4 linked regions of the Homo sapiens genome follow. The protein of the gene in region 4 interacts with the protein of the main gene of each other region in a pairwise test. Each region holds a gene or a part of one and is shown on either strand. Other genes may lie near its edges.

Region 1 (4,164 bases), on a different chromosome or scaffold from region 4:
TGGCTGGTGTTATTACTTTACCAACTTGGTTTAGCCATTTTAAATTCTGTCATCTCTTTTTGAACCACAAAAACCAACTATTCTGAGAAACAGAAAATTTCATATTACTATTTTACTCTGTGTAATCCAAATAAGTATTCTAGGGTTTAGAATATTGTTCCTAACTTTCTAAGACATGCAATACTTCTAAGAAACAGACAGGAATATAGACATAACTACAATGCTGATATTATTTCTTGTTTGTGTTCTGGCAGTCCTACATTAATTCCTGTAAGTTCCTCAATCTGGTCAGGTCTTCACAGCCAAAATAAGTCACAGTTAACATTATTTCTTTAGAAAAGCAAGTAAAAGAAAATATGCTTTCCTGAATTATCTAAGCAAAATTTTGTTTAGCTATTTTTTGCCAAAATATTCTCAATGTCAGTGGGTTTGTGATTTATGCTCTAAGTCAAAATGACTTTCCTTAAAACAGAACAATTATCTCCAATTCAATAATTTAATAATTTTTTTTTCAAAATGGTTCACCTATATTATTGAAATTTAAAATCTTAAAAAAAGTTTATTCATAAGAGGATAATAAATCACTAAGTATGTAGTCAATGCATACGGGAGAAAATGTGCTGCAGCCCAAACGCAAATGATTCCCCACTATATACTGATTAAAATGTTTCATATATGGGTTTGACTTTTATAAGGAGGTGCTCTTGGGTATGTGTGAGATGGCCAATTATTTAATTTTTAAAAATCAATAATTGTAATTCTGGAAGGAAGAAGACCAACCACAGTCAATGCCAGATGTAGTATCACTTGAAATCCAGGTTCTTAAACTAAAAGAAACAATTAAAATGTGAAAGTATTGTGGCTATTTTTCATTTCAACAGCAGTTTTAAGTTTAAATAGATAGGATAAGTTGAATAAGAATACAATTAATATTTTTAAAAATTCTTCTATATTTCTTTATAAACAAAAAAAGATTATTTAAAAAGATATGAATACTTTTTTCAAGCTTTATGAGTGATGACTCTACATCCTTCTCTGCATTTCTTTTTTATTTTATTTTATTTTATTTTATTTTATTTTATTTTATTTTTATTATACTTTAAGTTTTAGGGTACATGTGCACATTGTGCAGGTTAGTTACATATGTATACATGTGCCATGCTGGTGCACTGCACCCACTAACTCGTCATCTAGCATTAGGTATATCTCCCAATGCTATCCCTCCCCACTCCCCCCACCCCACCACAGACTGACCCAAAGGTGACCCTGCTATCATCATCTTATTGGGTAAAAAGTAGGAGGGAAATAGAATAGCGTGACTCAAGGTACTAATACCCTTTAATTGGTCTTCAGTTATTTTTCTTGGGTCTTCTCTACAGCTGACAGGCCAACTCAACCTACTGCCAACCAAGACCTGACTGGCACGAGGAAAGGTAATGCTGCTGAAACACTTGGAGAAAGTGATCCTTTTCACAGTAGTTAGTTGGGACATCACCATAGTTATTTCAGAATCACATTTTCTTCCTTTTAGTTATTGTTAAGTTTGAATATGACCTAGCATCACTTTAAAATTAATTTCTAACCTAAACCTAAGTTCTGGATGGTGTTATGTTCAAATTTATTTTTAACTTTACTTTGGGTTCCAGTCAAATTCTGATACCAACTAAATCATAGCAGCCATTGTGAATTCCGAACAAGAAGGCGTTTAACGTATTCCTACAGACAAATGTTGAGAGTTAACTCCACAGGAAGTTGGGCTCATGATAATAATCGCAATTAACCCCTTAATTACTTTCAAATTTTATTTCTATAAAAGTCATAATTTTATTTGTTATGGAATAATTATTTTTTTAAAACATGTTTTTCAAATATTCATGAAAGCTGGATAATTCTACCATTTCACGAATTATTTCTTCTTACCAAGTGATGAGGGCAAATGCAAATGTAGCTGATGCGCAAAGTATGGTCTTATCTCTGTGATTTTTGTTTGTGCCAAAAGGAAATTACTATCATTTTATAGAATATTTTCTTTTGTTTACATATCATTTTACTGTGTGAACTGATAAGGGGTCTGTGATTCATCATAAAAACATTTTCAGTCTATAATCCTAAAAGATCACTAGCAAGTGAAGCATTAATAAGGAGCTTCATCCCACTTAAAGAAATATGAGTGTGCTTAGATTGTTCAAATTGATTCCAAATGAGTTCCATCGAATGGAAATTTGATGACATCGTATGGGCAGTTTTGAAGTCACTTTAGTAGACAGCCTTCCTAATCATTATTGCCTGAGAATCAGACGCTAATGGAGTCCAGTGGGCTTTCCATCCCCTATCTGAGGCTTTAATTCTGTGAATCTTTTTTGCGAAGTTCAACTTTGTAGTGATTCAAGTTTATATGAGTGTGTCAATAACAATAGCTGCAACAAGATGAAGTTAGTAATTACTTCCTAAACATAATATATACTTAAATATAAAAAGTTTGGGGTATCATATATTATTAGTCTAAAAAGATGATTTATTAAAAATCAAATAAGCAAGTATGACACTGTATATACTCTTTTAGAAAAATAAGGCTAATGTATTTCTTTAAATATTTTAGTCAAAGCCACTGTAATTGTCATCTCTATACTTCTTATTAAAACAATCAAGTTAATCATATCAGTTATGATTACTGGAGAAGTATGTTATAAAGAAAACAGTCTCATAACCCTCCACTTCCCATTCCATCCTACATACTTCTGTTGGATTGATCATGGAATTATAGAATTTTAGAAATCTCTAAGTTCAAACCCTGGTTTTACAGGTAAGAAAATGTAAAGCCCAGGAAAGGGAAATCACTTGATCAAAGTTACAGAGGTAGAGATAAGGCCTGGTCTAGAATTCAGTCCTCCAAAAAATGTATAGTCATACACTTTCTAGTCCAAAAACACTCAATTGTTTTCTGTTGTTTATAAAGCCATGCCTAGCTTTTTAACCCATCATTATCTTAAAGGTGTCTACTTTTTCTGCTCTAAACTTTCCTTCCAATCTTATATTTCCCTTCTCATACAAGATTCCAATCAAATGTTCATGGCGATTCTCAAGACTTTCTCCTCTACTTGAAATATTTCTCTCCCTGTTAAATACTGCATAGGCAAGCCTCATCTATATGTCATTTTTTCCACACAAAGACTGCTGCTTCTCTTAACTGAAACTTTTATTAATAGAAAACCACTTTTGTGGCATTTTCTACTTTTTTTCCCTCTTACAGTTGTTTTTCAGTATATGTTTCAACACTCTTCCTAAAATTGATGCTACTCATTGGCAAGGCCTGTATCATATTTACATTGATAATCTCAACATTTGACATAGTAATGATAATTTGATAATTCCGTTAATATTGTCAAAAATTAAATTCAGAAATTTTTACTCCAAGTTTGAGTTTTTACATTCTTTTGTTAAAATAAATTTTTCACATCGGCTAAATCTACCTGTAAATCTGGCTTTTTTTCTTAATCAAGGAAACATTGTATTCAAGTCACTCCTAAATTTCTAGTAACAAATTCTTTTAAATTAATTTTTTTTTAAATTTATCTTTAGGTGCAATAATGAAGAGTTTTCTTCTAGTTGTCAATGCCCTGGCATTAACCCTGCCTTTTTTGGTAAGTTAATTTCATCTAACCAGATTGTACTGACTTTAAGAAAATTTTGTTTAAGGGCTTTAACTATGCAAACTTCTAAATACAATTATGCTTCATAGAACAAAATATCCACATAGTTGTTACATTTTTAAGGTTAATTTTTTTAATATTTATTTCTATTATGAAATCAAAGTCATGTTCTTTTGGATATCCATTTAGTTCTGTGAATTAAGAAATCACACTTAATCATGTACAGGAAACTTTTAAAATTCTCATGCTATAGAGAAAATACATTCAGGGGAAAAACAATACTGAAAACATTTTAAAATTGTAAATGCATTAAGGATAATTCAGAAAGAATAAATACAGAAATCATAGTCTGGGAATCAGAAATTATTTTAATTAAGTTCCTGTCTCACCCAGACTCCAATCTCTTTATGGAAACAAAATCCTTCAAAGGTCAACTTTGGTTAAGCTTTTTCACAAGTTTCAAAGACCTTGATACTTCTGCCTTTAATATTTGAATCATTAACTTTTGTTATAT
Region 2 (3,500 bases), on a different chromosome or scaffold from region 4:
CAAGGCTGCAGTGAGCCCTGATCATACTCCAGCTTGGATAACAGAGCAAGAGACCCTGTCTCAAAACAAAACAAAACACACACACATACACACACAAACAAACAAAAAAAGAAACAAAATAGGAAGCTGAAGAAGATAATGAAAGCGATTTGAAATAGAGGAACATAGAATTATGAAATGAATAGGGTGCAACATGGAAAATAACAAAACTAAGAATGAAGAGAAGGAAAAGCAAGGTTAAGTTTGAGGTTCATAAGGGTAAATCAAGACAGGTATGAAACCTAGAGAAAGTAAAAATGAGAAGTCACGATGCTAGGCAGAGAGAATACGTGAATTAAAATAAACATTCAATTTTTGGAGCAACTCACTCTCACAAGGAGAAGGTTTCGTAAGCAGACAGTGCTGTGCATGGGAGACCTGCCCTCTCAAAGGTAGTTGCCAAATGGTTCCAGATAGTTGAAGGAAACATGTATCAAATTTCAGGCCAGTCTCATTCCTCCAGAAGAGGAGCTGCTTTTTTGGACAAAACCCGCAATCTCCTGTTGTGCGTGGTCTCTTCTGCCTATTTTAGGTGTTTTCCTTATTTCCAGTGAAAGAAGCCAAGATCAGTAAGCACTTACACAGTAGCGTCTCAGTTTCCTTACTGGGCATACTACAATGCAAAGAGAGCAGTCCATATCTGGTCACCTGCCAGGATACCAGAAGACTGGGAGATAGGCAGCACAAGAAATGGCCTAATCTTCTTTCTCCATTGTGCTGTAGAATGATTATTTTCAATATGAAATTGATTACAATATATTCTTCACATTGTTTTGTGTTTGACAGCAGTGGATTTTGAATACCAAATTTTTTTTGAATAGCTACTCTGAGTGACATATTGTGCTGGGTGTTGTGGCCACATGGATGAATGGAGTTGGCCTTGTTAACTATTAAACACAAAAGCATGTGATAGTTACCTGAGAGATCCATGCAGGGGAGAGTCCAGGGGAAGGTGACTGATCACTGCTTCCCAGGGGGAGGCAGAAAATGCTTCCTGGAGGAGATGATGGGTGGATTAAGGAAGATGAGTTGAGCAGGAGTTGTAGCTACCAGCCAGGGAGGAAGGGTATTCAGAGCAGAGGAAGCAAGGTGAGCAAAGGCACCAAGATGTGACACTACTGGACTGCCAAGCTATTCAGTGTGGCAGAGTAGGGCAAAGGAGGCAAGAAAGAAGGAAGAGGATTAAATCACAGGGTGAGTAATTCTGAAAAGCAACAGACTCATCAGGAGTAAACACTCACCATCATAAATTCAGACTTTCACGTTATTACCTGTCCTTTTAGGGCAACTTGAGCCTTTTGTTTGACTTAGCACAACATGAATCCAAACTAGGGTTGTTTTGATTTTCCCAGGCACGGTAGCAGACAATTTCTTGAATACTTATTTGCAGATAGAGTTTGTCAGTGTCAGCATTTCTTGTGCACCCACAAGGTGAGTATAGTAGAAAAAGAAGAACATGGTTCTTGACCCCCAGGAACTTGCCTTTTAAGAGAAGACACCCTGAAGTGACAAGCTGTTATAAGTTAGTGTTTTAAACTATGGAAGAACAATCTGAGCAGAGTACTCTATACTGTAGAAGACTTCTTAGAGGAGAAGTTACTTTTGAAATGAATTTAGAAAAATGTGGGGAAAGATGCATCCATATATATTTTAAGATCAAAGACATTAATGCTGTCTCTTCAGTTTATTGTCGAATGTTTATTCCCAAACAAACCAAAAGCTAATAGGATGTTACTTAAAACATGCAAGTCCCATTTCCTCCACTGCTATGAGCACTCAGGTAAAAGCATGGAACAGTCATTTAAAATCTTGCCAAGGGCCTTTCTGTTTTTTCTGTACTACCTGCTGCCAGACCACAGTCCATGGCTGATGAAAGTGATATCAGTACTTCATCTTCATGTTCCTATTCTCTTATCCCTAGATGCCTGTGAGGAGCCACCAACATTTGAAGCTATGGAGCTCATTGGTAAACCAAAACCCTACTATGAGATTGGTGAACGAGTAGATTATAAGTGTAAAAAAGGATACTTCTATATACCTCCTCTTGCCACCCATACTATTTGTGATCGGAATCATACATGGCTACCTGTCTCAGATGACGCCTGTTATAGTAAGTAAACAAACCTCTTTTTTTTTTCTGCTTGCTCTAGAGATTTGCATACATTTTGGGGTACATATTCCACTACGGTGATGATGATTTTCTTCTTGTAAAATGAGGTTCAAGATAACAATGCATTTTTGCAAGCTTTGAGAAATCAAAATCTCCAAGAAATCATTTTCCTGGCAATAGATTGCCTGGGTGAATATGAATCTTAAGTTTGCCCTTATAATAAGTAAATAATGAAAATTATATTCCCACCCATTCAAAAGAGCACTGCAGAATTTTGATTTTGATTCAGATCTGTTTTATAACTGGATTGAAAACTATCAAAATTATTTTCTTTCAGGAGAAACATGTCCATATATACGGGATCCTTTAAATGGCCAAGCAGTCCCTGCAAATGGGACTTACGAGTTTGGTTATCAGATGCACTTTATTTGTAATGAGGGGTAAGTTGCTCCTTAGAGGAAATAAGGGAAGTGTTAGTAATTTTATTTTTGTTTTGCTTCTCTTCTTAAGCATTCCTGTAAACTTAATTTTGCTTTCTATGTGACAAGTTATACTTCTAGCCAAACAACTCTTGGATGTTTTATGGAGATAGGCAAGATATATAGTAAATAGAAAGTAATTGATATTTAAGGAAAGCAAAACTACTTGCTGTTTCTGACAATAAGTCTGTTGTAAGCATTAAGAATGTAGTAATCATGAGAATTTGTCCTTCACAACTGAGTGTCCCCTATTTAAATCTGCCAACTCTTAGAGTTGAAGTAGGGCTCACAAAAATGAGAAATAGAATTGCCAACTAAAGATACACTTGTATCCAGATGACTCTGTAAAGTGTTATCAGACCAAAACTGACGCGGTTAGCCTTTACCATCATGTTGATCAAAATCTCTCAGTTGAAAAACCTTATTTTTGAGACTGCTACAGTGTGAAGCATCTCAAGAGCAGGTACTGAGCCCTCGGTAATAGCCTTTGTTCTGTAGGGTTTTGAAGTTGTATATATTGGAGATACTAGACATTTAAGATAAATGTGCATTTATAGAGTAAATGTAAGTATTCTGCTATAACAGAATACTTGAGGCTAGGCATTTATAAAGAAAAGAAATGTATTTGGCTCATATTTCTGGAGGCTGGAGAGTTCAAGGGGATGGCAGTAGTGTCTGGCAAGGGCTTTTGTGCTGCATCATAACATGCTGGAAAGTGAAAGGGAAATTTAGCATGTGCAAAAAAGACAAAGCACAAGGGAGGGGGTTCTCGCTTTATAACAACGTGCTCTTATGGTAATGAATCCAAGCCTACAAGAATGAGAACTCATTCCCTGAAGAATTAATGAAGACCCTCTAGAAAGGCATTATAC
Region 3 (2,245 bases), on a different chromosome or scaffold from region 4:
CATTTTCTCTCTCACTGAACTCAGGTGGAGAGTCTGCCAAAAGGGGTGAATAGTGGCTGCTGTAAATAATCCCGGTTTTTTGGTGTGTGCCACTGAAGCATACGGCAGCAGGCTGCCTGTCACCACCTTGATCCAGAGAGGGGAGAACAACGTATGTCCCATACACATCATAAAATGGTATGGAGACCCACAGGGAAGGCTGAATTTCACAATGGTCAGTGTGTCCCAGAGCCAGTCTTCAAGCTGGTCCCCGGCTCCTTCTCTGCAAAGCAGGAACCCGTCTTCTTAGCAGACAAATCATGGTACACACCCTGAGAATAGAATTCTGACCAAGAAGAGGTAATATCCAGAATATCTGAGCAGAACAAAACAAAGGCTTACATGCACAGTTTGAGGCCCTTCTCCTCCAGGGTGCTGTGAGCCCATATGGCACCTTTGCAAATTAGGAAAGGCACCCCTTCTTCTTGGGAGAAGTAGCCCCACACCAGGGCACGCACACAGCTTAGTGAGCAGAACACAAGCTGAATTCCAGCCTCCATTAGCTGCAGGTGCCCTTGTGCAGTGAACAACCTGCACAACTGTACATCCAGAAGATCAATGTCTCCTTCAATAGTACTGAAGACCTCCTCTCCTCAGAACTGGAAGACTTGGGCTTGTTCAGATTTGTGAGTCTACTCTAGACTCCTCCTATTTCCTTGGGTAGCCCTGAGGTCTTCTTTGTCCAGGGAAGCCGTCTTTCCTTTGGGCCTTACTTCACTGTTAGCACCAATGTTGTCTTTTCTCACATATGCAAAAGTTATAATTTAGTTTCTAGCGTCTGGTTAACAGATTCCCTGTGCCTGCTATCGGAGCTGCCACACCGGCTGCTTTAGATCCTCTCCATAAGTGCCGCAGCAGGGAGAGAAGGGAAGACGTGCACAGGCAGCTGTGATCCTGCTGGGTTCCAGAGCATGCCCTTCTGGCCTAGCTGGAAGCTGGAGGAAGATAGGAAATGTGTACCCAGCTTTGACGGTTCCCCACTCTAATCGTTATCTGTTACTCTAAAAGTCACTTAGCTGGCAAAGCCACTGTCCTGGCTTCTTCTGTATCCCACTAGGTATGAAAAAGGACTGGGGATAAGGGGGAAGAGGTATGTTGTTTCCAAGGAAACCAAGGGGTCTGGGGTCCCCTACGGCTGACTCTCATGGTAGGGTGGCCACCATATTTTCCGGCCCCACTGCAAACTTGCCCCCGATGTCCCTCAGTGCCGATGTTGGGGGTGGAATGCGGTCTGTCGGTGGGGTCTTTTGAAAGAAGAGCTGACAAAGGCACAGGCTGCCAGCAGCAACATGCTGACTGGCTATTCGGCTCATCCGTGGCTGACACCCAGCTGGTCCCAGGCCGCCAGTGGTGGCAGTGGCTCTGTACCTCAGGACCAATCCTGGGGCCTCCAAGTGGGACCAAGTCAGTTTTGAGGCCTAGCCAGAAGTTTGGTTCATTTTGCGACATGTTTGAGGGGTCCTTAGAGAAACTCAACCCTCCCTGAGGTCTGCTGGAGGTGGCAGGAGCTGGCCAGGAATCCTTGAGCCCATGGGGCAGGTACTGGCTGAGAAGTAAGAACCCAGTCAGATGTGGAGCTGGCCGGCCAGCCTAGTGAAGCTGCTATCCTCAAGTGGAAAGCCCCTGGCCGAAGCCCTGCTGGGTTAAAGCAATGTGACCATCAGGATCACGGCCCCCATCCACAGTGGAAGGCTCATAGGTTTGGTGGAACTGGGAGTCTAATCCACTCTCGATTTCTTAACTGAGTTCCTCTGGAAAAACCACAGTCCACTTCCCAGAGAACATCACTAACGGATCATCTTCGACAACTGGTAGATTCCTCAGTCGAAGAATCTACTTGTCAGAGCCCTTGGGAATTCTCACCATCACAGACACATCAGCCTCTCCTTCAACAGTGTTTGACAAAGGCCCCCATTCCAGGTCAAGGGCCTGACAGAGAAAGAAGGTCCCGCTTGAGTATGTTGTATGTACACTCAGAGAGAAATTAAAAAAAATTAAAACACAAAATAACAACAAAAAAACAATTTCACAAGACACAGTGTCAGTCCTGCCCGATGTCCTTCCTGTTCCAGACGGTGTTCCTGGTGCCCCATGTGAAGAGGGCAGCCCACCCTCACCTAGGGCCTGCCCCGTTCCTGTTCTCTTCTCCATTCAAAGCAAGGTTGTGCAGGAAGAGGAGGATCTGCCACCACACACGATTTTGGTT
Region 4 (3,500 bases):
GAGGAGCACCTGGGACAGCTTTCATGGTCTGGGACAGGACGATGCCCACAGGCTGGGCAGGGGGCTGAGTGGGTGGAAGAGAGCAGGCAATGGAAGGAGCTTTCCCTGGTAGTTTAGGGTTTGGCCAAGAGTAGGGCAGCAATGACCTGGATAATGGCCTGGAGGATCCCTTCTGGATCCTTCCTGACTCATTGGAAAGCATTACATCCCCCCACACTGGCAGGGCTGAGGGCCGGTTCTGGGCATGAGAGCTCTCAGTGAACCCGGCTGGGCCAGCGATGATAGCGGCTGGGTGGGGAGGGTGGGGGAACACTCACTTGAGGAAGGCGTCCTGGCTGTTCAGGAAGGGGAAGAAGGAGGGCTCACAGATTAGCCCGTGGTCCAGGCAGGTGTCGGTGCAGGCCCTCCCAGGCACGGCCAGCCAGGCCCGCAGGGCGTGCGCGGGGGGCCAGGCCCCAGGAGCCAAGCTGGTGTTCCGAGCCCACTCGAGGTGGGTGGCATTGGGGGCCAGGACAAAGGGGCTCTGCGGGGCGTGGGCCTCTGGTAGGGCAGGGTCTGGAGCTCTGCAGAAGTCCTGCAAGGAGGAGAGCAGTGTCAGGGTGGGGAAGTGCGACCCAGGTGTGCCTGGGAGACACCTGAAGGTGTGGCCCTGCCGTGCCAGTACGAGCCACCACTACTGGGCGCTTACTGAATACCAGGTAGCTTTACCTGCATTATTTCATTTACTTCTCATGGACACTCGTGTCTCCAGATCGCTTACAGGAATTATGGAGGCTCAGAGGTCACGGCATCCGCCCAGGGCCTTGGGGTTGGATGGCAGAACAGGACTTGGATTCAGGGCCCTCTGCATCCTGTGTGCCCTGGAGCTGCCTCGATGCTCAGGTCAGGCTGGGGTTCCTACCCTGGGGCCCACGAGCCCTGCCCTCCATGGGGACAGGGCCCCAGGCTGGCTGTGAGGCTCTCCCTGCAGGGTTCAACTCCAGGGGCCGGAGGGCCCCGCGAATGCTTTTCTGTGAGCTTCCAGTCTGGGTCCAGTCCTGGGTTCTGGCCACGGCCCTGACCCTCACCCCCTCACCTGAATACACTCTCCCTTCTGGGGGTTTCAGTATTCCCATCTGTAAAGGGACAGGGGAGAACCAGACTCTCTCAGCCCCTAATATTGGTGGGGCCAACAAGATGGAAAGGGAGGTCACGTACTATCTGTGGAAATTTCTTACAGCCATACGGCCACCTGCCCCAGGGCCCTGAGCCCAAGGCCCACCCCAGGCATCACCCTGGACACCCGGGGCCTGCAGAGCCACGCTCCATCTGGGCCACCTGCAGCCCTCATGGTGGCTCAGATCCACCAGGATGCAGTGGAGGGCCAGGACTCCCCAGGAATAGGGCACGCCCTCCTCCTCACCCACGACTTCCAGGCACTCTGAGCACCCGTGGGAGGAGAAGGAGTGTACTCCTTGGACAGGTGCCTGCCCAGGCGCTCCCTCGGGGGCTGAGGTGGCCGAGTTTTTGAAACCGTGGGGCTGTCCCCTGGTTTCTCAGGGCAGAGATCCTAATCTCCCATTCCAGTCTCACTGCCATCCTTAGCAGGTGGGCGGAGAGTCTGGGGATCTTCACTTCCCATTCAGTTACCAAATCCCAATCAGTTAGCAGACTTTCGAACCACTGTTTTCTAAGAACGGAAGTCTTTGTGTTTCTGTTAGTGCCGTGGAGTTGGGCTCTAAGGCTGGGCCCAGACAGCAGGAGTGCCCGGAGTGTGCTGCTTTCCAGGCCCGCAGTCAGGCCTGCCTGTCTCCAGCCCTGAGGGAACTCTGGGAAGAGACTGGACAGGCTGGAGGAGGGAGCAGGGAGTTGGATGGTTTCACGGGTGCAGGGCCCTGGGCAGACAATGAAGCTGGCTCAGCCCCCTCCTCTGGTCTGACAGGATCTGGGGCAGGGACCAGAGGGCTCACTGACCTGGTGCTGGATGTAGGCGTGGATCCGCTCCAGCATCCCCTCGCAGGTGTACTCGTAGGGTAGGTAGGGGTCTACCTGTGGGAGGGATGGGCAGACACATGGGGCGGGAGAAGGCCCAGCCGTCGGGGGCCCTGCCATGCTCGGCATTGGGGGTGGAGGTCTGGTGGGCTCTCACATCCTGTGCCATGCCCAGGGAGCCGACCACCCCATCCACCTGGCCCTTCCACCCAGCTCAGAGTCCCCGTTCCCCGCACACCCTCCAGTAGCCCTCCGGGACTCAGGCTCAGGACCCACAAGGCCCAGCCTCATCCCTCCCCACCCCCTCCCAGGTCCCTGTCCCAACTGCAATGAGGATAAAGCTCAGCGCTGTGTCCCCTACTGGGCTTTGACACCTCCTCTTCCCACAGCCCACCCACCCTCTTAGGCATCACCTGCTCCAGGGAGCTTTCCCTGAGCCCCACCCCCACTCCTGTTACAGGAACACTTTCCTTGGTGACTCCCAGCACCCCAGACTTCCCCCAGCACAGAATGAGCCCCTGTGTTATTGTCTCCTGTGTATTCGTCATGTCTCTCATAAACTTATGGACACCTTGAGGGTGGGGACTATGGCTTGTTCACACTGAATCTCCAGTGCCTGGCACAGTGCCTGGCATACAGTGGGTGCTCAGGAAATAGTCATGGAATGAAAAGGCATCCCCAGCTCTGCCTGTATCCTGCCCAAGACATGGGACATTCATGCAGAGGAACACAGGGGCATCTCCCAGTCAGCGGGAATGAGATGACATTTGTAAAGTACCCTGCCCCCACAGGCACAAACCCCCAAACAGAGGCCACAGGTTGTCTGTCTAAATATCTAATAGTTAGCCCGGCACGGTGGCTCATGCCTGTAATCCCAGCACTTTGGGAGGCCGAGGTGGGCGGATCGCCTGAGGTCAGGAGTTCAAGACCAGCCTGGCCAACGTGGTGAAACCCGGCTCTACTAATACAAAAAAAATTAGCTAGGCGTGGTGGCAGGTGCCTGTAATCCCAGCTACTTGGGAGGCTGAGGCAGGAGAATCACTTGAACCTGGGAGGTGGAGGTTGCAGTGAGCTGAGACTGCACCATTGCACTCCAGCCTGGGCAACAGAGTGAGACTTTGTCTCAAAAATAAATAAATAAATAAATATCTAATAGTCACACAGCAACCTGTCCTGTGGGCAGATGCATGCAGTAGCTTGGGTAAAAGAAACCAGGGGAGTGGAGGGAAGAGTGACAGAGGAGTAAGGGGGTACTCCTGCCTCCCCCCGACTTCTTAACCAACCAACCCCTTCCTGTTCCATTAACCTTCTCAGGCCCAGTGCAGAGCCACCGTGGAGAAAATCACTGACCTGAAAGGGCAGGGGCAGCAGTCAGGACTCAGGAAGGAGCCATCCCGGACTCAGAGAAAGGTCTGTTTTAGGCTTCAACCTCCCCACCCCACCATGCCTGGTGGCACCTGACCTGGCCCAGCCCATCTCCTAATGAGGCCGCTTTCCCGTCTTTAGCCAGTGGGTGAAATCTAACTGTT

The links. Proteins that work in one complex are often made in the same cells at the same time.
Region 1: the proteins of MGAT5B (region 4) and CSN3 interact in a two-hybrid assay, tested with the Homo sapiens proteins (one large-scale study listed by BioGRID).
Region 2: the proteins of MGAT5B (region 4) and CD46 interact in a two-hybrid assay, tested with the Homo sapiens proteins (one large-scale study listed by BioGRID).
Region 3: the proteins of MGAT5B (region 4) and BMF interact in a two-hybrid assay, tested with the Homo sapiens proteins (one large-scale study listed by BioGRID).

What each region holds. Positions count from the first base shown.
Region 1 is NC_000004.12:70,241,233-70,245,396, forward strand, and holds the start of CSN3 (kappa-casein precursor), read left to right. Parts: upstream 1-1,364; 5' UTR 1,365-1,433; intron 1,434-3,579; 5' UTR 3,580-3,587; coding exon 3,588-3,641; intron 3,642-4,164. UniProt on the Homo sapiens protein: Kappa-casein stabilizes micelle formation, preventing casein precipitation in milk.
Region 2 is NC_000001.11:207,755,054-207,758,553, forward strand, and holds part of CD46 (membrane cofactor protein isoform 3 precursor), read left to right. Parts: intron 1-1,960; coding exon 1,961-2,149; intron 2,150-2,486; coding exon 2,487-2,589; intron 2,590-3,500. UniProt on the Homo sapiens protein: Acts as a cofactor for complement factor I, a serine protease which protects autologous cells against complement-mediated injury by cleaving C3b and C4b deposited on host tissue.
Region 3 is NC_000015.10:40,089,635-40,091,879, forward strand, and holds part of BMF (bcl-2-modifying factor), read right to left. Parts: coding exon 2,153-2,245; 3' UTR 1-2,152. UniProt on the Homo sapiens protein: May play a role in apoptosis. Isoform 1 seems to be the main initiator.
Region 4 is NC_000017.11:76,944,904-76,948,403, reverse strand, and holds part of MGAT5B (alpha-1,6-mannosylglycoprotein 6-beta-N-acetylglucosaminyltransferase B), read right to left. Parts: exon of another isoform or gene 3,147-3,500; intron 2,029-3,146; coding exon 1,954-2,028; intron 575-1,953; coding exon 318-574; intron 1-317. UniProt on the Homo sapiens protein: Glycosyltransferase that acts on alpha-linked mannose of N-glycans and O-mannosyl glycans.